4 linked regions of the Homo sapiens genome follow. The protein of the gene in region 3 purifies or fractionates together with the protein of the main gene of each other region. This does not show direct contact. Each region holds a gene or a part of one and is shown on either strand. Other genes may lie near its edges. The genes, in order: SLC25A10, IMMT, CLN3 and CPT1A.

What was found.
Region 1: the proteins of CLN3 (region 3) and SLC25A10 purify together in Homo sapiens (affinity purification with mass spectrometry; 2 studies listed by BioGRID and IntAct, with this or other methods). This does not show direct contact.
Region 2: the proteins of CLN3 (region 3) and IMMT purify together in Homo sapiens (affinity purification with mass spectrometry; 2 studies listed by BioGRID and IntAct, with this or other methods). This does not show direct contact.
Region 4: the proteins of CLN3 (region 3) and CPT1A purify together in Homo sapiens (affinity purification with mass spectrometry, with the first as the bait; 2 studies listed by BioGRID). This does not show direct contact.

Annotation. Positions count from the first base shown.
Region 1 is NC_000017.11:81,714,927-81,721,681, reverse strand, and holds the end of SLC25A10 (mitochondrial dicarboxylate carrier), read right to left. Parts: intron 6,730-6,755; coding exon 6,610-6,729; intron 6,205-6,609; coding exon 6,090-6,204; intron 5,990-6,089; coding exon 5,941-5,989; intron 5,674-5,940; coding exon 5,632-5,673; intron 4,871-5,631; coding exon 4,827-4,870; intron 4,681-4,826; coding exon 4,610-4,680; intron 4,284-4,609; coding exon 4,191-4,283; intron 3,926-4,190; coding exon of another isoform or gene 3,899-3,925; coding exon 3,821-3,898; intron 3,631-3,820; coding exon of another isoform or gene 3,514-3,630; exon of another isoform or gene 3,338-3,513; intron 1,852-3,337; coding exon 1,795-1,851; intron 1,707-1,794; coding exon 1,605-1,706; coding exon of another isoform or gene 1,165-1,604; 3' UTR 670-1,164; downstream 1-669. UniProt on the Homo sapiens protein: Catalyzes the electroneutral exchange or flux of physiologically important metabolites such as dicarboxylates (malonate, malate, succinate), inorganic sulfur-containing anions, and phosphate, across mitochondrial inner membrane.
Region 2 is NC_000002.12:86,164,175-86,171,700, reverse strand, and holds part of IMMT (MICOS complex subunit MIC60), read left to right. Parts: intron 1-319; exon of another isoform or gene 320-355; coding exon 356-493; intron 494-856; coding exon 857-952; coding exon of another isoform or gene 953-960; exon of another isoform or gene 961-2,388; intron 2,389-5,056; coding exon 5,057-5,193; intron 5,194-7,526. UniProt on the Homo sapiens protein: Component of the MICOS complex, a large protein complex of the mitochondrial inner membrane that plays crucial roles in the maintenance of crista junctions, inner membrane architecture, and formation of contact sites to the outer membrane.
Region 3 is NC_000016.10:28,482,075-28,489,083, forward strand, and holds part of CLN3 (battenin), read right to left. Parts: intron 6,589-7,009; coding exon 6,517-6,588; intron 5,668-6,516; coding exon 5,588-5,667; intron 5,468-5,587; coding exon 5,382-5,467; intron 4,577-5,381; coding exon 4,504-4,576; intron 4,417-4,503; coding exon 4,273-4,416; intron 2,045-4,272; coding exon 1,932-2,044; intron 599-1,931; coding exon 552-598; intron 472-551; coding exon 403-471; intron 309-402; coding exon 253-308; intron 125-252; coding exon 31-124; intron 1-30.
Region 4 is NC_000011.10:68,831,660-68,839,185, forward strand, and holds part of CPT1A (carnitine O-palmitoyltransferase 1, liver isoform), read right to left. Parts: intron 1-7,526. UniProt on the Homo sapiens protein: Catalyzes the transfer of the acyl group of long-chain fatty acid-CoA conjugates onto carnitine, an essential step for the mitochondrial uptake of long-chain fatty acids and their subsequent beta-oxidation in the mitochondrion.

The sequences.
Region 1 (6,755 bases), on a different chromosome or scaffold from region 3:
TACATTCTTTTTTTGAAATGGGGTCTCGCTCTGTCACCCAGGCTGGAGTGCAGTGGTGCGATCATAGCTCCCTGCAGCCTCGAACTTGCAGGCTTAAAGGATCCCACCGCAGCCTTCCAAGTAGCTGGGACTACAGGCTGTTTGCGCCACTGCACTCCAGCCTGAGTGACACAGTAAGACCCTGTCTTAAAAAAAAAAAAAAGGGCATCTTTGGGAGGCCAAAATGGGCAGATCCCCTGAGCTCAGAAGTTTGGGACCAGCCTGGGTAACATTGTGAGACCCCAACTCTACAAAAACATACAAAAATTAGCCAGGTATGATGGTGCACGCCCATAGCACCAGCTACTTGGAAGGCTGAGGTAGAAGACTGGTTTGAGCCCAGGAGGCCCAGGTTAGTAAGCCAAGATCGTGCCACTGCACTCCAGTCTGAATGACAGAGCCAGATCCTGTGTCTGAGACCCTCAACCCCAGCCTCACCGTCTTGTTCCCTTCCCCCCACACCGGTTTTGGTTCCTCCTACTTCCCCAATTCCTTCATCCAAATGCACAGCGAGGACCCTGGCTCCTCCCCAAAAGGCCTTGGCCCGGTCCTCCTTAGGGGGTGCAGGGGGTCCTGCTGGTCTGGACAGCAAGGCAGCCAGCGGGCAGGCAGCGCAGGCAGGAACAGATGTGGCAGCTCCCGGCATTTATTGATTGCAGCCCCCACAGAGCACACTGCCCTTCCCAGGTGGGGTGAAGCCCAGCGACCAGGGAGGCAGAGGATGCAGCATCCGCCCCGTCGGACTCCTTGTCGGGGAGAAGGCCCTAAGGAGGAACCGCGGCCCGCCTGGGCCATTCCCCCAGGGAGCCAAGCGGGGGGGCCCAGGTGCCCGAGGGACGCAGGCACAATCCCTGAAGACAGAGACCGCCTGCTGGTGAGTGGAGAGGCTTTGGCAAAACTAACTGTTAAAGCCACTGCAGGGCAGGCAGCGGTGCGCGGGACCTCGGTGGCCCTCGACCCTCACCCACAATGGCTCCAGAACCACCCTGGGCCACTCCCTCCCAGGCACTCGCTTGTGGTCTGCGTTGCTTGTTCATCCCACCCAGCTGCGGGGTCTCGCGGGGAGTTGCAGCTGCCCGAGGACATGGAAGGTCTGGTTGCTCTCAGCAGACACGAAGTGCAGAGCTAGCACTTGGGTGAGCAACAGCCAGGCTGCACCCACACTCTGCCACCCAAGTCCTCGATGGAAAGTGCTGGAAGATGCTGCTTTGGGCATCGGGGGCAGGAGGCAGGGATAATACCCCTCCCCTGGCCCAGGAGAGGGGAGAAATCAGCCTCTGGTAGCCCCTGTTCCCCTGAGGAGCTGCCAGCGGGAGAGGGGCAAGGCCACGCAGTGCCCAGCCGGGAGAGCCTGGTAGCCAGAGCGGGGGTGGTGCAGCTACAGCTGAGAGGGGACGAGGCCAGGAGGAGCTCAGCCAGCAGGTGGGGGGACAGCAGGGGCCTGCTGCGGAGGACGGGTGGCCACGGCCAGGGAGGTCGTGGCCCCAGGAGCAGGTGCTGGGCTTGGGACTCTTTGGAAGAACCTAGCGTGTCTGGCCTGGCAGCCCAGCCATTCCCACGGCTGGTCAGGATGGCACTTTGATGCCAAAGTTTTTGCGTAGCTGTTCCAGAAACACAAAAGTGAGCACGGTGTGGGGGATGAGGCGGATGCCAGCTGGGACGAGGCCCTGGAGGGAGACAGGGAAAATGAGAGACACAGAGCCCGAAGGGGCCCGCTCCCCATTGCCCAAGCCGCCACTGCCGCCACCACTGCACCTTGTAAAAGGCCAGAGGCCCGAGCTTCGCTGTCTCCACGGCGCAGTGGAAAACGCCCTGCAGAAAACGCAGTGAAACAATCAAAAAGGCTGCTTCTCACCCAAAAGGCAACGAAAATCCCCTCCCAGGCACCAGCCAGGCACGGTGGCCTGGGCATTCTCAATGTGGGGTGTGGGTGTGGGTGTGGGTGTGAGCGGCGGCTGCTGGCTGGTAACAGGTGACCACAGGTCTGCAGGCACCAGCCAGGTCAACGGCCACCCTGCCTGCTCATGCGGTACAACCAGGGCCCGAGGGTGCAGCCCGGGGTCCAGTGGGCAGAGGGGGCTGTGAACAGAACCATGAGAATCAGGGATGCAGCACGGCAGCGTCAGGGAGAAGAAAAGGGACAGAGCTATGGGCTCTGCAAACGTGGAAGCCCCATGGAGTTGGCGGGGGCCCAAGACAGGAGACCCAGAGCACCTATGAGGCACAGACTGCCATGAACGGCACCACCTCTGTTAATCTGTGAAAGAAATGTTTTTGGCCGGGCACAGTGACTCACACCTGTAATCCCAGCACTTTGGGAGGCTGAGGCGGCAGATCACTTCAGGCCAGGAGTTCAAGACCAGCCTGGCGAACATGGCGAAACCTTGTCTCTACTAAAAATACAAAAATTAGCCAGGAGTGGTGGCACGTGCCTGTAATCCCAGCACTTTGGGAGGCCGAGGCAAGCGGATCACCTGAGGTCAGGAGTTCAAGACCAGCCTGGCCGACATGGTGAAACCCTGTCTCTACTAAAAATATGAAAAATTAGCCGGGCATGGTGGCGGGCGCCTGTAATCCCAGCTACTTGGGAGGCTGAGGCAGGAGAATCGCTTGATCCCAGGAGGTGGAGGTTGCAATGAGGGGAAAAAAAAAAGAAAGAAAAGAAATGTGTTTTTTTTTGTTTTTTGTTTTTTTAAGACAGAGTCTCGCTCTGTCATCCAGGCTGGAGTGCAGTGGTGCAATCTCGGCTCACTGCAACCTCCGCCTCCTGAATTCAAGCAATTCTCCTGCCTCAGCCTCCTGAGTAGCTGGGATTACAGGCGTGCGCCACCAGGCCCAGCTAATTTTTTTGCATTTTTAGTAGAGACGGGGTTTCACCATGTTGGTCAGGCTGGTCTCCAACTCCTGACTTGTGATCTGCCCGCCTTGGCCTCCCAAAGTGTTGGGATTACAGGCGTGAGCCACCGTGCCTGGCCGAAAAGAAATGTTTTAAGACAGTCTCACTCTGTCACCCAGGCTGGAATGCAGTGGTGCAATCTCGGCTCACTGTGGCCTGGACATCCTGGGCTCAAGGGATTATCCCACCTCAGCCTCCTGTGTAGCTGGAACTACAGGCATGCACCACCAAGCCTGACCAATTTTGTTTTGTTTTGTTTTTTTGAGACAGTTTCACTCTTGTGGCCCAGGCTGGGGTGCAATGGTGTGATCTCGGCTCACTGCAACCTCCGCCTCCCAGGTTCAAGCGATTCTCCTGCCTCAGCCTCCCGAGTAGCTGGGATTACAGGCGCACGCCACCACACCCAGCCAATTTTTTGTATTTTTAGTAGAGAGGGGGTTTCACCATGTTGGCCAGGCTGGTCTTGAACTCCTGACCTCAGGTGATCTGCTTGCCTCGACCTCCCAAAGTGCTGGGATGATAGGCATGAGCCACCGCACCTGGCCCCTAATTTTTGTAATTTTGGTAGAGACAGGGTTTCAGTATGTTGCCCAGGCTGGTCTTGAACTCCTAGACTCAAGCAGTCTGCCTGCCTCAGGCTCCCAAAGTGCTGGGGTTACAGGCATGAGCCACTGCGCCGGGCCAAGAAGTCTTCTCTAAAAACAAAAACAAGGCAAAGGCATTCAAAGGCACAACCCTCTCCCAAGGCAAGTGCTGTGCAGAGACAGGCAACTAGAAGGGAGGGACACCCTTCCCCGGGTCCCCAGTGCGAGTGTCCACCCCCCGGAGAGGTGAGGGGACTCGCTGGGCTGTGCAGCCCAACTGCACAGGCAGGGCCCCACTCACCTGATACTCCCCCTTGGAGTTCATCAGGCGAGTCTTCAGCACATCCAGGGGCTGGCACAGGAACGTGGCACATCCACCCTGAGGAGGGGGCTCGTCACCAGCGGCCTGTCAGGTACGCCAGGCACCATCGCCGAATCCCACCCACGTGCCAGAACCTCCACCTGACTCCTAGGGCGGGCCAGGAACATGCTGGCGGGGGCACCAGGCTGACCCATGAGCTCCCAAAGCCCTGGCACCCCACTTATGAGCCCCAGGGGGCACTGCCAGATGCCCAAGGCCCCCGCCTCCCCCAGCCCTCGCCCCATCCTGGGTGCCCTCAGCGCCCAAGGCCGGCCCAGGGACGCCCACCCTAGCCATGCCGGCCACTTACTGCAATAAAGCTGGCGACAAAGTGAGTGAAGATGTTGTCAGAGAGGTACCCGGTGCTAAGGACCAGCTGCTTGGCCTGGTCGTAGCAGGACAGCTGCAGGGGCACAAGGGCGGTCAGGGCTGTAGGGGGGACCCCAGCTTGGGGAAAGCACACAGGGCCCCAGGCGACACCACCTGGCAATGGCCAAGCACCTGCTCCGTCTGTCCGTCCGTGAGGCCCAGACAGGGGAGGCACCTGCCCGAGGTCCTTCACAGGCTGCAGCCCTGACCCACCCGTGCCCCCCACCCTGCCCCACAAGGTCACAGCTGGTGGCTCCCCAGGAGGGTTTTGGCGCCCAGTGCCTTGTTCTATGGCCCCTCTGAAGATGGAGGTCAGTGGTCACAGGCACTGCCCACACCCACCCCACGCAGGAGGCCTACCTGGCCCACAGTGACTAAGGCCCCTCGGCTGGATGCCATGGTTGCACCCGAGAACAGTCTCCTGAGACCCTCTGCACAAGGAAGGGGTGAGGCAAGGGGTGAGGCAAGGGGTGAGGCCAGGCACCTGGCCCAAATCCCTCAGCGCCCAGTCTTCTACAGCGCTGCCCACCCTGCCTGCCCCCCAGAACCCTGCCTGTGCACAGCACCTGCCCCTCACCTTCACGAGCTACGCGGTACAGGCCATCCAGCGCATGGGCGTAGCTGCCGGGGACACAGAATGACCACATGAGACTCCCCCTGACCACCGGCTCCCACAGAGGGTCCTCCCAGGCCCCGAGGCAGGCCGGGGGTTCTCGAGGAAGCAGAGGCCTCATGGGCCTGAAGATCTCTCCCTGGGAACATGAAGCTGGTCCTGACGTCCCACAGCCACCTCGCCCGCCCCGCCCGGCCCTCAGGGAGGAGGTTCCATCGTTTCCAACAGAGTCCCTGGCTGGGCACCGCTCCTAGCATGCAGGCCTCCTGCCCGCCAGCCCCCGGGGTCCTGGGGGAACACAGTCTGTGTGCACAGCTAGAAGCCAGAACTCCCCAGGGGTCCTTGGAAGGGGCGGGGGAAGTGGCTCACACTGCAGTTGGAGCGGACCCCGGGCCCTGGAAAGACCCCAGGCCGTGGCAGGAGGGCACAGCTGCCCTGAGCTGGGCAGGGAGGCAGCGCCTCCTTCGGGCGTTTCTGTTGCATGCGCTCTCTCCATGCCTGGGGCGTTCGCCTCCGCACTCACCACCCTGGGGTGCAAACAGGCCCAGCCCCCAATCCAACAAGGCTCTCCCCACAGGAAGAACCCAAAGGTCCTGGGGGCGCAGAGTGACACCCCCGAGTCCAGAACAGCCGTCAGGACCCTCCATGGACCGTGCAGGCACCTCGGCCTGCTGGAGCCTCAGCTGGGTCACGGCAGAGCAGCCAGGGGTCCGCTCCCGCCCGAGCCTCCTGCACCTCAACCACCCCGAGAAGGCCGCCCATGACTCACTTGCGCCGCTGACCCTGGGGCAGCTTCACGTCGTTCTGCATCCTGAAACAGAAGCAGGTGGCGGGAGGGGCGGGCGGGCCGAGGGGCATGGGCAGCCCTGGCAGCACAGGGGAGCTCACGCTGGTCAGCGGGGCCCACAGGACAGGGCACGCCGGGGCTCAGGGACACCCACCCTCCTATGCCCAGGACACCAGGGTCTCAGTGGCTTATTCCAGGCTGACCCCACCCTGCAAGCAGCCCTGGCAGGCCCTGGCATGTCTGGGGACAAGAAAGCCCCTGGCCTTGCAGGTGGGGTGGGGGAACACCAACCTGACGTTGACCAAGTCTGCGGGCGTCCCCACGAAGCCTCCAGCTAAACCTGCGGTGACACAAACCCCAGAGATGAGCCGTGCTGACACACGGCGTCCTCGGCCGACCTGACCACCCCGCGCCCCTCCCCCTCCCGCCCGGCAGCTCACCGCTGACGGAGCCCAGCAACACCTTCTCGTGGAAGGGGAGAGGCCCCTGGCTGCCCTTGGCCACACGGTCCCGCACAGTCTCGTAGATGGCGAACCGAGTCAGGGAGTAGGTCATCTGGGGGAGAAGGGCCTGGCTTGGAGGGACGGGCACGCCCCACACCCCTCAGCCTCGCCACCCGGCCCAGCCAGGGATCCCCCTCAGCCCGAGGGGCCACAGGGACCCTGAGGGGCCTTCCCAAGGCCACTGTGCCAGCATGCGGCTGAGCCAGTTCACAAATCTAGAGCTGCACCCTGCTTTCTCACTCCCTGGGCCTCAGCTTCCCCACCAGTAAGTGGCGGTCTCAGGCCCAGCCCTGCAAACTGGGTGGGTGCCCATGGGAGGCGCACCCTGGGGTCACCAGCTCTCGGCCTGGTGGGTCCTTCCTTGCACAAAGTCTTGAAAAGGGGACGGAAGTAGCTTGGATGCCACTGCAGGACTCAGCCCCAGTCTGGGAGCCCAAGGCTGGCACACACCACGCACCTGTCTGCACAGCGAGGCGCTCAGGCCGCTGTAGAGTGCCAGGATGCCGTCGGTACGCACCACCCGCAGCGCCATGCCCGTCATGCGCAGCTTCACCTCCTGCTGCGTCTGCAGATGCACCTGCGGGAGTGAGTGCTCTCAGACCC
Region 2 (7,526 bases), on a different chromosome or scaffold from region 3:
TCATCATTAACAGGCTTTTTCCTTTGTTACTCTTTTTCCATGTGTAAATGTCCCCTTCTTGTGTGTTAATATTATTATTATAAGCCTTGCCTGGAATAATGATGGTTAAAATGCAGGTGGATGCAGACAAGACTTCTTTCTTTTGTTCGTTCCCAACCATTGTCCATTTTGTGTGAGTTTATGTATGCAGTGGACAGTGCCCCTGTTTGTGTGTTATTCAAACATGTGGCAGTACAAATATTTGTGTCTCTAAGGAGTCAGATGTGAAGTGGGTGGTGATGGTGGTAGTAAATTTCTGTGTGTTTCTCTGTTAACCCAGGAAAGTATAAATACCATGAGTAACATATATTTATAGCACCTACAGAAGCGGCTCAAATTATTTCTGCAGCAGGTGATACCCTGTCGGTCCCAGCCCCTGCAGTTCAGCCTGAGGAATCTTTAAAAACTGATCACCCTGAAATTGGTGAAGGAAAACCCACACCTGCACTTTCAGGTAATTTAATTATTTCTATTTGTTCTTTTATACATGATACACTCATCAGAACTATTTAATGCCTAGGCAACACGTAGACACTAAGTATACATTTACACTAGGTTTAGGTCTTCAGAGTTTCTTAGGAAATTTTTAAAATTTAAATGTCCGAATGTATCTTTTTAAACAAGAAGATTAAAGCCTGATTCCTATTTCTTCATTTTGGAATCATTAAGAGTAATGATATGGTTTTAGAATTCTTAACACAAAAATGCCCTGCATTGATATAACTGGCCAGTACAAACGATGCTTTTTTTATATCCCTGTTAGCTATTAAAATTCTATGCTGAAATTTGATTTCCTCTTATTTACTTTTGCTGCAAGAAGAAGCATCCTCATCTTCTATAAGGGAGCGACCACCTGAAGAAGTTGCAGCTCGCCTTGCACAACAGGAAAAACAAGAACAAGTTAAAATTGAGTGTATGTAAACCAGACAGCTTCTTAAGGATTTTGGGTCATCTCCCAGTTGCTCTCTTCTTAAACTATCAGCACAAGTTTGTCATCTATCACCTAGTTGTGGTTTCTTTTGTTGCTGCGGTTGTTTTTTAGTGGCATTGCTTTATTCATCACCTTCATTTCATCTAAACTTCTTTTACCTAAGTGACAAAGGCTATTCTTAGTGTATAGTTGGTGAAAACTCCAAATAATACTAAAGATTATGTTAGCGCTAAAGATTCTTTATACTCTGGGAAACAGAAATTGATTATTTATGTTTTAGCAGCTTGCCTAAAAGTCCTTTATTTATTTTTTTGAGATAGGCTCTTTTCTGTCACCCAGACTGGAGTGCGGTGGCACTGTCATGGCTCACTGCAGCCTCAACCTCCCAGGCCAAAGCCATCCTCCCACCTCAGCCTCCTCTGTAGCTGGGACTACAGGCGTGTACCACCATACCCAGCTAATTTTTTAAAAATTTTTTATAGACACAGGCATCTCACTATGTTGCCTAGACTGGTCTCGTACTCCTGGGCTCAAGTGATCCTCCCACCTTGAACTCCCAAAGTGCTGGGATTACAGGCCTGAGCCCTTGTACCCAGCCCTAAGAGTCTTTTATTAATAATTGTTAATTTATACTTGTAAATAATTGTTTATTAATAATTGTAAATTTATTTGTTGGAGTCAGAATGGCTTACACTGCCTTATCATCTAGCCTCTGGACTCTCTAGTAGTGCTTTTATCTGACACTGGTGGGGCATGGAATGTTCTACACATCGCTGGTTTCCAGCTAACAAGCATATTCCTTTTTAAGTTTCAGTTTTATGGTTTTTTTGTTTGTTTGTTTTTAAGAGATGGGCTCTTACTGTGTTGGTCAGGGTAGTGTTGGACTCTTGGCCTCAAGAAATCCTCCCACCTTGGCCTCCCAAAGTGCTGGGATTACAGGCATGAGCTACCACACCTGGCCAAGTTTTTTTTATCATTATTATTATTTTTGCTGTCCTCGGTAGGTCAGGATTCTTAAATTTTTTGATGGTTTAAAAAAGATAATAGATATTTATCAATTTATTTTTCTGTCTTAAAGCACATGTAACATAATTTTTTGTACTGTGCTATAATATGTTGATGTCTCTGGAGGTCGTGGGATGTAGCTTTTTGCTGGACAGAGAGTTCAGTACTCATGGCAGCTGTTTATAGTTTTTTGATCTCCTTGTCATTTGTTTTGCTCCTGTTTCCCTTGTAATGTGCTGGTTCTGCCCTACCCTGAGGAACCAAGTTTCTTAGAATAGCATAGGTGTCATTCTGTGCCTATGGCATTAGTTTTCCTACTTGGATTTGGATTTTCGTTTTTGATTTTTTGTATTCTTCTGATTGTGTTACAAATATTTGTGAATATTTAATAAATGACTTCTAACTAAGTGAAATATTTCATTTTTCCTACTTCTTTTTTCTTTTAGTCCTGTTTTTTCTTCACTTTTCACTTTTCTCTCTTTATCACTTGGGCACCTTGAAATTAAGTTATAAACGTAAGATGGAGATGTCTGCTGTTCCAGCTGTTCTTTTCCTTGCCTGGTTCCTCTCATCTTTCATTTTGGGCAAAGTGAAAATTTTCAGAATTTTATCTGTCACCTCTTAATTCCCCCTCAAACTTGACTTTAAAAATATACACATATGCATTTGCATGTGAAATATTTATCAAGGATCAAAGGACAGTGACTAAACCTCTGAAGAGGGCTGGAAGCAGCAGGTGCCTCCCAGCAGCCCACTTTCTGTGGCCTCCATAAAGTGGTTCACAACTGCCTGTACTTGATGTCCACTGTTCACTCACGCATGTCATGGGATCCAAATACCACGGTTTCTCTCCCTTGCCCCTTTCTCTTGTTGTATCCCCTGCTCTCATTTCACTTCTATCACTTCTGTCAATTTCTTTTTATTTTCTCCTTATTAGTTTTCCTCTTATCTTTCTTGCAGAGGTACCATTTGTAGTTCCTCAGATTCCATTTGTTCATTGCTAGTTTATGCTTCTTTTCCTCAAAATCATCTTTTTTTCTCGCTTGTCAAATACATTTTTTATTTTTTGTCATGTGATATCATTTATTTAATTAATTTGTTTTGAGACAGAGTCTCACTCTGTCACCTAGGCTGGAGTGCAGTGGTGCAATATCGGCTCACTACAACCTCCAACTCCCAGGTTCAAGCGATTTTCCTGCCTCAGCCTCCTGAGTAGCTGGGACTATAGGCACCCACCACCATGTCTGGATAATTTTTGTATTTTTAGTAGAGACGGGGTTTCACAATGTTGGCCAGCCTGGTCTCGAACTCCTGACCTCAGGTGATACACCTGCCTCGGCCTCCCAAAGTGCTGGGATTACAGGCGTGAGCCACTGCGCCGGCCCATTTATTATTAAATTAGTATTCTTACTAGCCGCCTTTCTTCAAATGACCATTTATTTTTGCATTTTAGTAAATTATCTAAAATTGTCATTTGCTTTACTTTTTGGTATTCCCGAAACAGCATATAGAAATGTGATCTTAATAGATGGAAGCCTCTTGAACATTGGTGTCTGCTATTTCTTGAGTCCTTTTATGGAAGAACACTGTCCATTTCAAGTTGCCTTTGGGTTTTGTTTTGTATTTTTTGACCTGTTTTCTTATTTGTCTTTTTCTTTCTCTTGTCTGTTTTCTTGTATCTTGTCAACATAAGTGTTTTGCTATGAGTATTCCTTCTTGCCAAGGGGATGAAATGGGCACCTCTTTTTCCCTGTTACGATTGTTGTTTAAAATGAAGAAAGCTGATGGATTTGTTGAGTTTATAGCCACAATATGTAAAAGGGGCTATAGTGTCCTAAACCTTGTTTCTCCCATTTGAAATACATTACCCTTCTTTAAATAATTTTGAAAAAAAAAAACACTTTTTATTTTGAAAAAGTTTAGATATACAGAAAAGAAAAAGTAGGCTGGGCACGGTGGCTCACGCCTGTAATCCCAGCACTTTGAGAGGCTGAGGTGGATGGATCACGAGGTCAGGAGATCGAGACCATCCTGGCTAACACGGTGAAACCCTGTCTGCTAAAAATACAAAATATTAGCTGAGCGTGGTGGCAGGCACCTGTAGTCCCAGCTACTCAGGAGGCTGAGGCAGGAGAATCGCCTGAACCCAGGAGGCGGAGGTTGCAGTGAACTGAGACGGTGCCACTGCACTCTAGCCTGGGCGATAGAGTGGGACTCCGTCTCCAAAAAAAAAAAAAAAAACAAAAAACAAAAAACCGGGCACGGTGGCTCACGCCTGTAATCCCAGCACTTTGGGAGTCCAGGGTGGGCGGATCATGGGGTCAGTAGATGGAGACTATCCTGGCTAACATGGTGAAACCCCGTCTCTACTAAGAAATACAAAAAAATTAGCTGGGCGTGGTGGTATGCACCTGTAGTCCCAGCTACTCGGGAGGCTGAGGTAGGAGAATGGCGTGAACCCGGGAGGCGGAGCTTGCAGTGAGCCGAGATCGCGCCACTGCACTCCAGCCTGGGCGACAGAGCGAGACTCTGTCTCAAAAAAAAAAAAAAAAAGAAGTGTAATAAAGCTTCATAGATTTATCATCCAGACTAAATTATCAGTATTTTACCATGTTTTCTTTTTTTTTTTTGAGAGAGTCTCGCTCTGTCGCCCAGGCTAGAGTGCAGTGGCATGATCTCGGCTCACTGCAAGCTCCACCTCCCAGGTTCAAGCGATTCTCCTGCCTCAGCCTCCCAGGTAGCTGGAACTACAGGCACCCGCCACCATGCCTGGCTAATTTTTGTATTTTTAGTAGAGACGGGGTTTCACCACATTGGTCAGGTTGGTCTCAAACTCCTGACCTTGTGATACGCCCGCCTCGGCCTCCCAAAGTGCTGGGATTACAGGCATGAGCCACTGCGCCCGGCCTTTACCATACTTTTAAGTGAAACTTTGATTCCCTAAATTTGAGTCTCATGTATTTTGTTCCTTTTTAAATTTTTTGGGAAATGCAATGGAAGACTAGATAGGAGAACAGCAAAAGTTTAAAGTCATTTATGGGGGTAGGATTTGTTTTTTAACTGTTCTTTTTTTTTTTTAAGCTCTAGCCAAGAGCTTAGAAGATGCTCTGAGGCAAACTGCAAGTGTCACTCTGCAGGCTATTGCAGCTCAGAATGCTGCGGTCCAGGCTGTCAATGCACACTCCAACATATTGAAAGCCGCCATGGACAATTCTGAGGTGAGCCCAATGAATGATTAGAAGTGTTCTGGCTGTCATGACTTGGAGGACAAAAAGAAAAATCGAGGGTGGAGAGAAGTGTAATATTTAACAGACTGCTTTCTTCCGTATGATATCGGCTTTCTCTCACTAGGGGAAGATAGTCTGGAATAATTAATCTTTTTTTGTTATTGTTTTGAGACGGAGTCTTGCTCTGTCGCCCGGGCTGGAGTCCAGTGGTGCGATCTCGGCTCATTGCAACCTCCACCTCCCAGGTTCAAGCGATTCTCCTGCCTCAGCCTCCCGAGTAGCTGGGATTACAGGCTCCCGCCACCATACCCGGCTAATTTTTGTACTTTTAGTAGAGACAGGGTTTGCCATTTTGGCCAGGCTGGACTGGAACTCTTGACCTCAAGTGATTTGCCTGCCTCGGCCTCCCAAAATGTTGGGATTACAGGCGTGAGCCACTGTGCTTGGCCTTAGAGTAATTATGTTTAAAAAACAAACTGAAAAAAGCCTTTAAGTTTTTTAGAATGAATTTTATACATTGTGCTTTACTATATCTTACAACACCGATGCAGCGCAAGAATTAGTTCAGATTTGCTTTCATATTTTAATAGCACTTAAATATTTTTGTTGTTTGCTTTAAAATTGCTATTTCCATAGGTAAACTTTTTAAGATACTTCTCAAACTTCACATGCAGTTTTAAGAAATAATACAGAGAGCTCTCATGTTCCCTGAAACACCTGCTATTTTAAATGTTTATGATTATTTATGCGAAACACTTCAAAGAATGAAGTAATAACATTGATTTTTCAAAATTTAATACTGGGACTTAATACATTATTTTATAATTACATTAAGTTATTCAGTATGTATAAATGTATCTCTATTCCAAGTCATTTAAGGAGTAAATTAAAGTAAAATGCATAAATTATTAATCTTAAGGATCAGGATCATACATGGTCAGTAAAGTTACTTTGCCATCATAATTGTAGTTTTAAAAAAAATTTTACACACACTTTACATTGTTTCAGTCGTATGTACTTATATTACAAAAGAGTTTAATTAGACCTCTGATGTTAGTAGCAAGAAACTACAACCTTTGAAATTTTAAGGAAAATTCCATTTTATTCAAAGTCCAAGAAAAATACTTAAATATCAGAGTTCAGTCAGCAAAGTGGAAACCACCCAGGAAATTTAATTTGCTGGTTACCGATATGGGAAGGCTAGAAGTTGCGTGATGTAAGGGTGTTGGGTTCAAACCCAAGTAGACCAGTATCCCTCAGAAGGACACGGATTGGAAGCTTTAAATGCCATGTTACTACTTGGGTATAAGGGTACACAAGGTGGTATTTCATCTTCCTAACGCACATAATGTGTAGCACATGGTGATTAGACAGTGTAAAATCTATTGCAGTCAAGATTTTACAATCTAATGGTAGCAGTTAACAGATGAGAGTATTAGCTAATGTACAAAATAATTGGAAAAATGTATGAACACATTTTGGAATGTTAAGAATGAATTCCAGCTTTTGTTTTTTCTAGTACAAGAAGCTACAGGTGCACATGTAATTTCTAATATATACTGAATAACTTTCACAAAGCAGTGTTTGTGAAGAGTTGGATTTGGTAATACTAGGATTTAGTTTGGTTGTAGGGGAATCTGTGTCTGTTACAGGGTAGGTTTTCCTTGGACTTCTGTAAGCAGGAGTACCTTCAACAAGGGTGATAAATTTTGGCCCCCAGATATGTCATTGACATTTACATGCTTTGTAATTCTATTTGGGTCAGTTCATGTGGCCCAACTCAGCATCCATTCCTTTTTTTTTTTTTTTGAGACAGAGTCTTGCTCTGTCACCAGGCTGTAGTGCAGTGGCGTGATCTCTGCTCACTGCAACCTCTGCCTCCCAGGTTCAAGCAATTCTCCTGCCTTAGCCTCTCAAGTAGCTGAAATTACAGGTGCCCACCACCACACCTGGCTAATTTTTGTATTTTTCGTACAGAGAGGGTTTCACTATGTTGGCCAGGCTGGTCTCGAACTCATGACCTCAAGTGATCTACCTGCCTCCACCTCCCAAAAGTGCTGGGATTATAGGCGTAAGCCACCATGCCTGGCCCCAAATCAGTATACATTCTTGATGTATTTTATTTTCAAGATGACTAAAGCGGTCCAGGCGTGGTGGCTCATACCTGTAATCCCAGCACTGTGGGAGGCTGAGGCTGGTGGATCATTTGAGGTCAGGAGTTCGAGACCAGCCTGACCAACATGGAGAAACCCCGTTTCTACTAAAAATATAAAATTAGCTGGGCATGGTGGCCCATGCCTGTAATCCCAGCTACTCGGGAGACT
Region 3 (7,009 bases):
GGAGTGAAGTGAGGGGCAGGGGTTTGGTACCTGCAGCAGGGCCAGGGCCCAGGTGAAACGGATGCGACAGCAGCGGAGAGAAGAGCGGGAGGCAAAGACGCCAGCCTGGTACAGCATCTGGTACCTGAGGTTAGGGTTGGGGGGAGGAGAGGAGGCTCCTCCAGGGACCATCCCGCTCCCCCCGGTGCCTACTGGGCAGGGCAGCTGCATCACCACGGCGCCCTCCCAGCCCACTGCCCTCGCTCCTCTTACCAGCGGTATTGCTGAGCGTGACTCAGGGAAGTGTTCCAGAAAAAGAGGAGTTCAAACTGCAACAAATACCAGACAGGGGAGATGGACGGGGCTGTGTGGGTCCCAGCCCCAATCGCCACCTCCACACCCCTCCTAGCACCCCTCACTTACAAGTCCCTGGTTAATGAAATACTCGGCAAAGTAAACTACGACCAAGGGAACAATGTACCACAGCAGACCCTGGAAAAGGCAGAAGATATAAGCGGGGGGCCTGGAGGTGAGCAAGCCCCACAGGGACATACCCCAGCCATCATCCGAACCTTGAACACTGTCCACCTTTCCCGAAGGGAGAGGCTGGAGCTGGAGCCTGCAGGGGAACAGAGAGAGAAGGGCAGATGAAGTTTTCACACTGAAGACTCGGCAAAGAGGCACCGGTATGACAGAATTAACCAGACCACGCAACAGTGGGAACTCACTTCCATGCCACTGGATTGGACACTTAAAAATGGTTAAAATGGCTGGGCGCAGTGGCTCATGCTTGTAATCCCAGCACCTTGGGAGACTGAGGTGGGCGGATCACCTGAGGTCAGGAGTTCAAGACCACCCTGGCCAACATGGAGAAACCCCATCTCTACTAAAAATACAAAAATTAGCCATGTGTGGTGGCAGGTGTCTGTAGTCCCAGCTACTCGGGTGGCTGAGGCAGGAGAATCACTTGAACCCAGGAGGCAGAGGTTGTAGTGAGCTGAGATTGCGCCATTGCACTCCAGCCTGGGCAACAAGAGCGAAACTCCACCTCAAAAAAATAAAGTAAGATAAAAAATAATAAAATGGTAAACTTCAAGTAATATACATACTTTATCATGATGAAAATAAAAGCTAACCAGGTGAGACCTCTTCACGTCTCTTTGATTTTTAATTTTTTTTATTTTTTGAGACAGAGTCTCACTCAGTTGCCCAGGCTGCAGTGCAGTGGTGCAATCTCAGCTCACTGCAGCCTCTGCCTCCTGGGTTCAAGTGATTCTCGTGCCTCAGCTTCCCAAGTAGCTGGGACTACAGGCATGCACCACCACACCTGGCTAATTTTTTTATTTTTAGTAGAGACGGGGTTTTACCATGTTGGCCAGACTGGTCTCAAACTCTTGATCTCAAATGATCCATCTGCCTCAGCCTCCCAAAGTGCTGGGATTACAGGTATGAACCACCACGCCCGGCCAATGTCTCTTGTACAGCTCCACAGATGGCCATTGGCCCACCCTGCCCAGTCTCACTGGCCATTCTCTGGTTCTAGAACATCCCAGCTTATCCCCACCGCAGGGCCTCAGCACTTGTGATTGGAATGCCTGGCACATGGTAAGTACTCAATTAATATCCCTTCTTCTCTCCCTCCCTTCCTTCCTTTCTTTTCTTTTTTTTTTTTTTTTTTTTTTTTTTGCGACAAGGTCTTGCTCTGTTGCCCAGGCTGGACTCAGACTTCTGAGCTCAAGTGGTCCTCCTGCCTCAGCCTCCCAAAGTGCTGGGATATTACAGGCGTGAGCCACTGTGCTCGTCCTCAACAAGTATTTCTCAAATAGACAAAGGCTTTTCCCATAACCAGTACACTCACTCTCTTTCCCCTCTTAACTTTGCCTATTGCAGAGAGGAAAAGGCCAAACCCAGAGAGAAAGAAAGTGACCTCTCTGAGGGTCTGTGTCTCCTACCTGGCTTCGACTCCGGGGCCTCGGTTCTTATGAGGGGCTGCCGGGCTGCGCTCTCTGCTTCTTCTTCCCCTCCAGGGTCCTGGGCCTCAGGAGATGTGAGCAACAAGAAATAGCTAGGAGTAGGATGAAGGCAGGGTCAGAAAACCCTACTGGCTGGGAAGGTCCCCAGGGACCATCTAGGCCACTTTTCCCAGGGAACACCTCTACCTTTGAACACTTTCAAAGATGGGTAGCTCACTGCCTCTAAGGCTCCTACGCTGTGCGGGAGAGCTCCAATTGTGGACAAAGGCTTCTTTCTTTGGACCTGAATTTATCTCCTTATTCCTATTCATGGGCCTTCATTTTGTTTTGATTTTTTTCAGAGACAGGGTCTTTCTCCAGCATCCAGGCTGGAATGCAGTGGTGCAATCATAGCTCACTGCAGCCGCGACCTCCCAGGCTCAAGCAATCCTCCCGCCTCAGCCTCCCAAGTAGCGGGGACTACAGGCACGTGCCACCAAGCCCGCCTCATATTTTCCATTTTTTGTATAAATGGAGTCTCGCTATGTTGCCCAGGCTGGTCTCAAATTTCTAGCCTCTAGTGGTCCTCCAGCCTCAGCCTCCTAAAGCACTGGGATTACAGCTGTGAGCCACTGTGCTCAGCAGGCCCTTGTTCGGACTGCTGGCTCATACCTAGCGAGTCAGTTCTGTTTTCTGGCCATTATTATTCTAATGGTCGCTCTAGCTCCCATTAATTATACGTTCACTCTGTGCTAGGCCAGAACTTCCTCGATTTTAGTCACTTAGGTTCTGGCTTCATGTTATTTGCCATATCCATATTCCTCCTGTATATATATATTTTTACTTAATATTTTTCTTTAAATGGACTCACTTTTTCTACTTAGACTTGTCCTAAGCACTAATCTTGTGAAGGGCCAGGTGTGTCTGGCTAGTTCAAAGTGTGTGTTTTTTTTTTTTTTAGACGGAGTCTCGCTCTGTTGCCCAGCCTGGAGTGCAGTGGCACAATCACGGCTCACTGCAACCTCTGCCTCCTGGGTTCAAGCGATTCTTCTCCTCAGCCTCCCAAGTAGCTGGGACTACAGGCAAGCGCCACCAAGCCTGGCTAATTTTTGTATTTTTAGTAGAGACGGGGTTTCACCATATTGGCCAGGCTGGTCTCAAACTCCTGACCTCGTGGTGCGCCCGCCTCGGCCTCCCAAAGTGCTGGGATTACAGATGTGAGCCACCATGCCCGGCCAAAGTGTTTTGTAATATGCATGAAAATACACAGAACTAATCAGGCCGGGCGCGGTGGCTCACGCCTGTATTCCTAGCATTATGGGAGGCCAAGGCAGGTGGATCACTTGAGGTCAGGAGTTTGAGACCAGCCTGGCCAATACAGTGAAACCCCGTCTCTACTAAAAATATAAAAAATTAGCCAGGCATGGTGGCATGGGCCTGTAGTCCCAGCTACTCGGGAGGCTGAGGCAGGAGAATCACTAGAGCCCGGGAGGCCGAGGCTGCAGTGAGCTGAGATCACACCAGTCACTGCACTCCAGCCTGAGTGACACCATGAGACTCCGTCTCAAAAAAAAAAAAAAAAAAAAAAAAAAAAGGGAGTCGCCATGGTTCAGGCCTGTTGCCCTGGCACTCAGGCAGGCAAGGCTACACATTCGAGGCCAACCTGGTCAACACTGATTAAAAAAAAAAAAAAAAAAAAAAGGAACTAATCAAATAAAGTCCACCCTCATCCTACTTCTAATCACCTTGGGAACCACACTGTGCTGAATGCATTACCCTCATCACCTCCAAGGAAAGCAAGAACAACTGCCATTTGAGATATGGGGAAACTGAGGGTTCAGAGAGGTGGAGTAACTTGTTCAACGCTACAAAGCTAAAAAGTGGCAGCTCCAGGACTCACACCTGGGGCTATCAGAGTCCAGATTCCGCCTCCCTTCACAGCAAGGTAGGGACTTGAAGATTGCAATCATAATCAAGTTTTCTTTTCTTTCTTTTTTTTTTTTTCTTCCTGAGACAGAGTCTAACTCTGTCGCCCGGGCTGGAGTGCAATGGCACGATCTCGGCTCACTGCCACCACTGCCTCCGGGGTTCAAGCGATTCTCCTGCCTTAGCCTCCTGAGTAGTTGGGACTACAGGCACCCGCCACCACACCTGGCTAATTGTTGTATTTTTAGTAGAGACGGGGTTTCACCATGTTGGCCAGGCTGGTTTCCTGACCTTAGGCGATCTGCCCTCCTTGGCCTCCCAAAGTGCTGGGATTACAGGCGTGAGCCACCACACCCAGCCATGGCCAAGTTTTCTCTCCTTGGACCCCTCTCCCTCCCGGCTCAGGGCAGCTCACCTGGCCAGCAGCAGGGCAGGGATACCCAGCATGGACAGCAGGGTCTGCTGAGGGGAGAGGCCGGCCTGGGTGAGGCCCAGGTAGGACAGGGCCCCCAGCAGCCCAGCTCCCCCAGTCCCTGAGGACCACCAGGAGATCACGGCCCTGGGAAGGAGAACACAGGAACATTCAGGAGGACCTAGGCTGACCATGGGACAGCCTCTCCCCACACTCCCTGCTCCACCTGCTTACCTGGGGTAGAAGGCAGTGAGGGAGAGGAAGGTGACCTCCCCAAGGCCTGATGAGATGCTAGCGAAGACCACACCTGGGGGGAGGACAAGCACTGGGATGGTCACACCACACCTTGCCACACTGCCCAGGCCTCTAATGTGTCTGGCCATGGCCTCCTCAGTATCAGCTCATAGAGGCTCCAATAGATCCCATGCATAGGCCAGGTTCCAGGTCTGAAGCAGAGCCCCACTCCCCTGCGTGTCCCTTCATGGAGAGTGGCACCTCCATCCACCCAGTTATCAGACCAGGGGCAGACATGCACCCTTGATGTCTCTGCCCCTTCATCAGTCTTTTTCTTTTCTTTTCTTTTTGGAGACGGAGTCTCGCCCTGTCACCCAGGCTGGAGTACAGTGGCGTGATCTCGGCTCACTGCAACCTCTGCCTCCCAGGTTCAAGAGATTCTCCTGCCTCAGCCTCCCGAGTAGCTGGGATTACAGGCTCCTGCCACCACACCCAGCTAATTTTTGTATTTTTGGTAGAGACGGGGTTTCTCCATGTTGGCCAGGCTGGTTTCGAACTCCTGACCTCAGGTGATCTGCCTGCCTTGGCTTTCCAAAGTGCTGGGATTATAGGCATGAGTCACTGTGCCTGGTCCATCACAGAGTCTTGACTTTGTTCACCTCAATCTCCATCTAATTCATCCATTTTCTCCCATCTCCTCCACTGCCTACCCCTCCAAATTGTCCCAGTCTCCCATCGCCTACTGCTGATAGCCCTAGCAGGCTTCTAAGGGTGACAGAATGAATCCCTTTCCTCTGGGAGGCTGGGGAGACTCTTCCCACAAATGCTCTGATGTGGTTCCTCGGGGCTCCCCATCTGACACAGAACCACACACTCACCACACAGGCTGGTCCCCACAGAATGAGAAAAGGCAACCAGGACGAAGCTTCCAGCAGCACAAATCCCACTGACGAGAACCCGGGGGCTGAGGGGGTGAGAAGGGAAGGGAGGGGGAAGGTCGGTCTCTACTCTCAGCATCTCAGCCATCCCAGCCTCCCCTTTCTCAGCTCCTGCCCACCCTGCCTCCCACTACCCTCACCCAGACCTGTAGGGCAGCAGGTGAAGGCCAAGAGGAGCCAACAATTTGATGACGAGTGTGGGGAGGATGTCCGCCAGGAGCACAGCCTGGGACAGGAGAATAGAGTGAGACCGCAGAGCTTCCAGGGGACAACCCTCCCAACCACGTGGCCAAGGAGAGGCAGGAGCTGGCCAAACAGGCCTGCTACAAACACAGGCTCTGGAGTCAGGCACGCCTGGGTTCAAGTCTCAGCTCTCCCACTCCTTAGTTGTGTGTCAAGAGTTTATACTCTCTGAGCTTCAGTTTCCTCATCTGGAAAATGGGAATATCATAGCACCTAGCTCACAGGACTGCTGTGTGGCTTAAATGAGCTAATATATGGTGCAGACAGAAAGGACTCAGAAACTATATATATATATATTTTGAGAGTGAGTCTCATTCTGCCACCCAGGCTGGAGTGTAGTGGCTCGATCTTGGCTCACTACAACCTCCACCTCCTGGGTTCAAGTGATTCTCCTGCCTCAGCCTCCTGAGTAGCTGGGATTACAGGCGTGCACCACCATGCCTGGCTAATTTTTGTATTTTTAGTACAGATGGGGTTTCACCATGTTGGCCAGGCTGGTCTTGAACTCCTGGTCTCAAGTGATCCATCCGCCTCAGCCTCAGAAATTATATTAAGGTCTCAATTATTTTATATATATATATTTTTTAATTTTTTTCTTTAAGATGGGGGTCTCACTATACTGCCCAGGCTGGTCTCAAACTCCTAGGCTCAAGTGATCCTCCCACCTTGGTCTCCCAAAGTGCTGGGATTACAAGTGTGAGCCAGTGCGCCCAGCCCAGGTCTCAACTGTTTTAATCATGACAGTCCCAGCTGGGTAGTGAAGGGCTGGGAGTGGGGTCTATAGACCCAGGGGCCCTGGGTCAGGCAAGGACCAGGTGAGATGAGTACGCACAGCCGTAGAGACAGAGTTGCAGTCAAATCGTGATGAGCTGTTGTGGGGGATCGGCGTTGGGCCTGGGTCCACCTAATGGGAGAAAAGCATGTCTTTCACCCTGGAGGCAGAGGGATAGACACACAGAGCCTGGCTCCCGTCCCAGCTCTGCCTTCACTTGAAGGATGGCTTTGGGTCAGCAGTGACTGACTTCTCAGGACCTCAGCGTCTCTGCATGCACAATGAAGAGGGGGTTTCCATATGAGTCTCACACTACTAGACCACAGGCCACAGATGGCCCTGTAAATGGACTTTGTTTAGATAACACATTCAAGAGCTTTCTTTTTTTTGAGATGGTGTCTCACTCTGTTGCCCAAGCTAGAGTGCAGTGGTGTGATCTTGGCTCATTGCAACTTCCACCTCCTGGCTTCAAGCAATTCTCCTGCCTCAGCCTCCTGAATAGCTCAGACTACAGGTGTGTGCCACCACACCCAGGTAGTTTTTGTATTTTTAG
Region 4 (7,526 bases), on a different chromosome or scaffold from region 3:
GTTTTGCTCCATCACCCAGGCTGGAGTGCAATGACATGATCTCGGCTCACAGCAACCTCTGCCTCCTGGGTTCAAGTGATTCTCCTGCCTCAGCCTTCCCAGGAGCTGGAATTACAGGCACGCACCACCACGCCTGGCTAATTTTGTATTTTTAGTAGAGATGGGTTTTTACCATGTTGACCAGGCTGGTCTCGAACTCCTGACCCCAAGCGATCCGTCTGCCTTGGCCTCCTAAAGTGCTGGGATTACAGGCATGAGCCACTGTGCCCGACCCAGAACATTCTTTTTACCAAACCCTTTGGCATATGCTAGACAATGTGACCCATATATATTTTTATATTGATGTATTTGACTAGCATTAGATCATTTAATTCCCACTAGCACCCTAGGAAATGGGTACTAGGGCTATCTCCATGTACTAATGAGAAAACCAGGGCTTAGATGTCAAGAAACTTGCCCAGTGTCACAGCCAGCAAATAGCAGGGCTGGAAATCAAACCCAGGCCCAGGCCAGGTGCGGTGGCTCACGCCTCTAATCCCAGCACTTTGGCAGGCCAAGGCGGACAGATCACCTGAGCTCAAGAGTTCGAGACCAGCCTGACCAATATGGTGAAACCCTGTCTCTACTAAAAATACAAAAAATTAGCTGGGCTTGGTGGCATGCACCCGTAGTCCCAGATACTAGGGAAACTGAGACAGGAGAATTTCTTGAACCTGGCAGGTGGAGGTTGCAGTGAGCCAAGATTGCACCACTGCACTCCAGCCTGGGTGACAGAGCGAGACTCTGTCTCAAAAACAAACAAACAAACAAACAAACAAACAAAAACCCAGGTCCAACTCCAAAACTTATACTCTTAACTCCCAAAGTAAAGTGGTAGGTACTACACAAAAAGTTCTACTTAGGATTCCTAAAGTTACAACACAGATATAAAATTAGGTCACTGTTGTAACCAAAATGATGAGATTGCAGCCAGCAATAAAACTCCAGTAAGTATAAACACCATCAGTGCCAACTGTAAAATTATTCACATGCTGCAGTCTTCCCACTAGCATTGCACAGTGCCCATGCACACAGGAGCAGGCTCTGCTTTCTATTCAAACCTAGCTAACAGCTGCCCATCTCCTCCAGCGGTAAACAACTATGTTGGAAATCCTCTGAGAAAATGTTACCCATGGGAAGCGACAGCTTAGCTCAGCAGGAATACCAGGCAGGGCCTCTAGGAACAGAGAAAGTGTGAGGCTGGATGACATGGGCCTCATCCCTGGAAAAACTGGAGAAGGCGCTGTAGGCAGGGTCAGAAGCAGTGTCTCTGGCGAAGGGCAGGGCAGTTATCTCATCATCTACAACACATTCTTGGATGCCCGGGTGACCAATGCCTGGGAAGATTCTGCTTCGCTAGAAAGCTAGTGCCAGCCTCCGGGACTGGCTCCAGCTCGGGGAAACCACCTTCACAACATGCATGATGTCCAAGGTGGCAAAAATCTGGCCTGGCCTCCTCACTGCTGCCCAAAGAACTTCAAGGGAAGTACCAGGAAGGCTCTGGAAGGACAGCAGCAGCCCAGGGGGTTCCCTAGAACTAGCACACATGTGCAGTAAAGTTCATGGCTCTTCTGAACTGAGATGCAGGCAAAAATTAGCAATAATGGGAAGGAAGAAAAGCAGCAGCTCCTCTTCTCCAGGCAAGTGTGGGTGTGCGCTCTCTGCACTGTATGAGCCACATCGTTATTCAATTGCAGATATGCACATCTGTAATGGTGCCCTTGTACTTTTCCAGTAAATGTGTATACACACAAACAGAAGTTGTTTCCCAAACTTGGCTGGGCGTGTTGGCTCACGCCTGTAATCCCAGCACTTTGGGAGGCCAAGGTGGGCGGATCACCTGAGGCCAGGAGTTCAAAACCAGCCTGGCCAACATGGTGAAACCCCATCTCTACTAAAAATACAAAACATTAGCTGGGTGTGGTGGTGGGCACCTGTAGCAGGAGAATTGCTTGAACCTGGTTGGTGGAGGTTGCAGTGAGCCAAGGTCCCACCACCGCACTCCAGCCTGGGCAACAAGAGCGAAACTCCATCTCAAAAAAGAAAAAAAAAAAGAAATTGTTTCCCAAACCTGATGGAAGCACCTTAGAAGTGAGAATGTAAGACTCACCTTATGTTTTTCGGAGGGTTTCATGTACAAGAAAGGTGAAGGATTTTCATTATTATTTTTTTTTTATAAGACAGGGTCTTGTTCTGTTGCCGAGCGTGACCTTGAACTCCTGGCTCAAGAGATCATCTTGCCTCAGCCTAAGCTGGGACTACAGGTGTGCTCCACTACACCCAGCCTGGAGCTTTCATTATGAAAGGTTGCGTCTTGAATTCATGACTGATCATTCAATATTCACATTATTTAAATTGGCCACACAGTGGATTTCCTGTACTGAAGTTTATCATAATGGACTATTCACATTTATGGGGTCAATATAATGGGTCGTCAGGTTATAAAAGGAATTCTGGGCTGGGCACGGTGGCTCATGCCTATAATCCCAGCACTTTGGGAGGCTGAGGCGTGTGGATCACCTGAGGTCAGGAGTTCAAGACCAGCCTGGCCAACGTGGCAAAACCTCATCTCTAGTAAAAATACAAAAATTAGCCAGGTGTGGTGGTGGGCACTTGTAATCCAGCTATTCGGGAGGCTGAGGCAGGAGAATCGCTTGAACCCGGGAGGCAGAGGTTGCAGTGAGCCGAGATCATGCCACTGCACCCCAGCCTGGGTGACAGAGGGAGACTTCGTCTCAAAAAATAAAAATAATAAAATAAAAGGAATTCTGGACTGGGTATGGTGGCTCATGCCTGTAATCCCAATACTTTGGCAGGCGAAGGCAGGAAGTTCGCTTGAGCCCAGGTATTTGAGACCAATCTGGGCAATGTAGCAAGACCCCATCTCTACAAAAAATACAAAAATTAGCCAAGGTGTGGGTAGTGCATGCCTGTGGTCCCAGCTACTTGCGAGTATCACTCGAGCCCAGGAGTTTGAGGTTATAGTGAGCTATGATCACGCCACTGCACTCTAGCCTGGATGACAGAGCGAGACCCTGTCTTACCAAGTACTGTAAAAATTAAGCCAATTCTGGGTGGATCACTTGAGGTCAGGAGTTTGAGACCAGCCTGGCCAACATGATGAAACCCTGTCTCTACTAACAAACAAAAACTACCTGGGCATGGTGGTGCATGCCTGTAATCTCAGCTACTCGGGAGGCTGAGGCAGGAGAATTGCTTGAACTGGGGAGGCGGAGGTTGCAGTGAGCCATGATTGCGCCACTGCACTCCAGCCCGGGCGATAGGGCGAGACTCCATCTCAAAAAAAAAAAAATTAAGCCAATTCAAATTTAGACCTTATAGTGCACCACGTCAATAAGTAATGGTTAGATAAATACAGACAAATATGATCTTAGAAAAAAAATTTGGAAAAGCCACAAAGATTCACAATTTTATAAAGAAGATAGCCAACGTATTGACAGACCCAGTTATCTGACCTAGCTATTCAGAAGCCCACCAGAAGTTTAACAGCTGCTACTTCTTTCCCACTGTGCCTGCCCTGCCTCTAGCCAGCATCGGCACTCGGGCAGGAGCTCAGACTGCAAGGAGGAGACCTGCACCTGCCCAAAGGACATCCTAAACCTCCTCTTCGTACCAGTATATTGTTCCCACAAATGTCCCTAAGACAACAGGAGCGGTGTCCCCTGTATCTCCCATGCATATTCTTCACCTTTGCACAGAATATAACAACTTGAACTTCTAATTCAAACTGAACTTGAACTGAACTTCTAATGTGGGGACTGCAAAATACATTGGTGTCCCTAAATGCCGCCTGCAGCCAGGACATTGTTTGCTAGAGCCTGTATTTACTTTACACACTCAAAACTCTCTTCACATCTGACCTCTGATTGGATCCTCACAAAACTCGTGTGACATGGAATGACAGGTTCAGACCCACCACCTTACAGATGAGGAAATGGAAACCCAGAAACCCTAGAGGCGGATTCAGTGCCACACCCAGTCTGCATGGGGTAGGGAGTGGGGGCCTCCAAAACCCAGGCCCTCTGGCTGCCCAGTGGTCTGGGAAGCAGCCTGGGAAAGGGAAAGAAAACACACAGATCTGGGTTCAAATCCCAGCTCTACCAATTACTCAGACCTGTGACCTTGAGCAAGTATTTGCCTCACATAAAGTATGCAGGATGCCCTTACCTCCTCCGGCAAACTGCAGGAGGACGTGGCAGCCAGCTCTGACACCTGTTAGGTCTTTACTGCAGGAACACGTTCTTTGTCCCTTTCCAACTGTAGCCCTGTGGTGCCAATGCAAACCCTCTAGGAATGTGGATTTCTCTTCCTACCTGTTGCACCCCCACCCCATGCCAAATCTCAATGCCAGCATTTGATACCTTCTGACTTCGATGTATACCTTTTAGCAATCTGTGGTTGTATTTTGTGCAAACTGTACTGGACATCACATTGAGCCACTGTGTGTATTTGAAGAAGTATAAAGAAACCAGGAAGCCCGGCGTGGTGGCTCATGCCTGGAATCCCAACGCTTTGCAAGGCCAAGGTGAAAGGGTCACTTAAGGCCAGGAGTTCAAGACCAGCCTGGGCAACATAGTGAGGCCTGTCTCTACAAAAAAATATAAAAAATTAGCTAGGTGTGGTGGCATATGCCTGTGGTCCTAGCTATGTAAGAGGCTGAAGAAGGAGGATCCCTTGAGCCCAAATGGGAGATTACGTTGAGCTATGATGGCACCACGGCACTGCACTCCAGCTTGGGCACCAAGGCAAGATCCTGCCTCGGAAAAAAAAACTCCTGGCGCAGTGGCTCATGCCTGTAATCCCCGCACTTTGGGAGGGTGAGTCAGGCAGATCACCTGAGGTCAGGAATTCAAGACCAGCCTGGCCAACATGGTGAAACTCATCTCTACTAAAAATACAAAAATTAGGCAGGCATGGTGGCATGCCCCTGTAGTCCCAGCTGCTTGGGAGGCTGAGGCAGGAGAATCACTTGAACCCAGAAGGCAGAGGCTGCAGTGAGCCGAGATCATACCGCTACACTCCAGCCTGGGCAACAGAGTGAGATTTCCTCAAAAGAAAGAAAAGAAAAGAAAATAAGAAAAGAAAAGAGAGAAAGAAAGAAAAATGAAACAAAATCTCCAAGAAAAGAAAGGGAAGGAAGGAAGGAAGGAAGGAAGGAATGAAGGAAATAAAGAAAAAGGAAAGCAAACCTCCATGTATTAAATCTTTTTCAGGGCACCAGAGGAGATGACAGTTGGCAAATCAGGGATAAATGCTTTTATAAATGAAGAATCATTTTATAAAAAGTCAAATTTCAGTGATAGCATATGACAGTTTTGTCTCTTCTCTTCTCTTTTCTTTTCTTTTTTGAGACGGAGTCTTGCTCTGTCAACCAGGCTGGAGTGCAGTGGTGTGATCTCAGCTCACTGCAACCTCCAACTCCTGGGTTCAAGCGATTCCCCTGCCTCAGCCTCCCGAGTAGCTGGGATTACAGGCGTGCATCACCATGCCCAGCTACCTTTTTGTATTTTAGTAAAGACGAGGTTTCACTGTGTTGGCCAGGCTGGTCTCGATCTCCTGACCTCATGTTCCGCCCATCGTGGCCTCCAGAAGTGCTGGGATTACAGGCGTGAGCCACTGCGCTTAGCTGACAGTTTCTCCAGGGCATCAGAACACAGCGTTAGGAAAGCTGTCTGTGGTGACTCAATGTGACCTGATGACCACAGGACCCCCTGAGTGAGCCAGGGCTGGTGGGCGAAGCAGACATCACTGCAGAGAGCTAGCAGCTTGCTGTGGGGAGAGAATAGGGACGTGGTCTCGGGTCCAGATGTCCTCAGCCACAGTAGCAGCATGAAGGAAGGTGCATTGAGGGGGGACCCAAATGCTCCTCTGCTCCCTGCCTCCCTCACAGGAACTTCCCATAACACAAACAGGAATAACAGTGCCCCTCGTCAGGCGGTTATGGCAATCCAGAGTGGAAAAAGGGTGCTTCGGGCAGGGCGAGGGGGCTTATGCCTGTAATCCCAGTGCTTTGGGAGGCTGAGGTGGGAGGATCGCTTGAGGCCAAGAGTGCACTATGATTGCGCCACGGCACTCCAGCCTGGACAACAGAGCAAGACCTTGTCACTAAAGAAAAAAAAAGAAAGGATGTCTCAAATGTTCTGTCATTCCTTCAACACATATCTGAATGTCTGCTCTGGGCCACTGAAATAATGAGGAAGGTGAATGTAAGGGTGAGTTAGGAAGAAGTAGCAGCACTTAGCCCCGGCTGCATGTGGGGGCTTAGGGAACAGGAAGAATGCAGGCTGGCTCTCCGGCTCCTGGGCTGGGTACCACAAACCACCCGCATCAGGAGTATGAAGCCTTCCTTTCTTAACATAAAGGACTTGGTGTCCAATGCCTAACCTATATCCCTCAGGAAGCAGAGCGGTACCCACCCTACTGCCCAACCCTCCAAGGTGACGGTGACCCTCCTGCACACCCTGGAGAGGGCACGCCTCACTCAGCAGCATGATTTCTTTCACTGTTAACTTCCAAAGACGTTCCTGGACCGAAGAACAATCCTCACCAAAAAAAAGGCAAAGGCAGACACTTCTGAGGCCGTCAAGATACCCAAATAGGGTAGCTGGCCTCAGCCCAGGGCCTGCTGGAGATCCAACCTTCACCTGACATTTGGATGGGGTAAAAGTTGAAATTTACACAAGGTAACAAATATTTGAAGCTAGCAAGCAGAAAAAAGTCCTTACTTGTGTTAAGCAATCAATTTGTTTAAAAAACATATCCTGTACATGTCGTCAAAGAAACTGGTAATAGTGGTGGCATCTGGAGAGGGGAACCAAGTGAGAAGGACTCTACTCTGTATCTGCACCTTTTTAAAAAAAAAAAAAAAAAAACAGAGACAGGGTCTGGCTGTCACCGAGGCTGGAGCGCAGTGGTGCAATCATAGCTCACTGCAGTCTCCACCTCCTGGGCTGAAGCCATCCTCCCACCTCAGCCTCCTGAGTAGCTGGGACCACAGATGCACTCCACCAGGCCCTACTAATTGTTTGTAGAGACAGGGGTCTGGCTCTGTTGCCCAGGTTGGTCTCGAATTCCTGGCCTCAAAGCAATCCTCCCACCTTGGCCTCCCAAAGCATTGAGATTACAGGCGTGAGCCACGGGGCCGGGCCCATCTGTGCCTCTTTAACTTTGCATCGTATGCTTATATCGCTTATTTGTAAAAACAAAACAAAACAAAAGTCTTCACAAGAAAAGCTCAAGACTGGCAGAAGACAAGTGAGGCCTCTTTAAAGTGTGTTGGAGAGATTCTCGAGAGATTCTCTCCAACACACTTTAAACAAACAATCTCGAACAGCCATTTTAATTCTTAAAGCACCAATTCTTCCGGAATTCAAGTTCAGGCTTCCACCAGCAACAGAATTCTGGCCTGCCAATAATAACCATGCAGAGTGACTAAACATTTTTTCCAACAAAGGAAAAAATGCAAA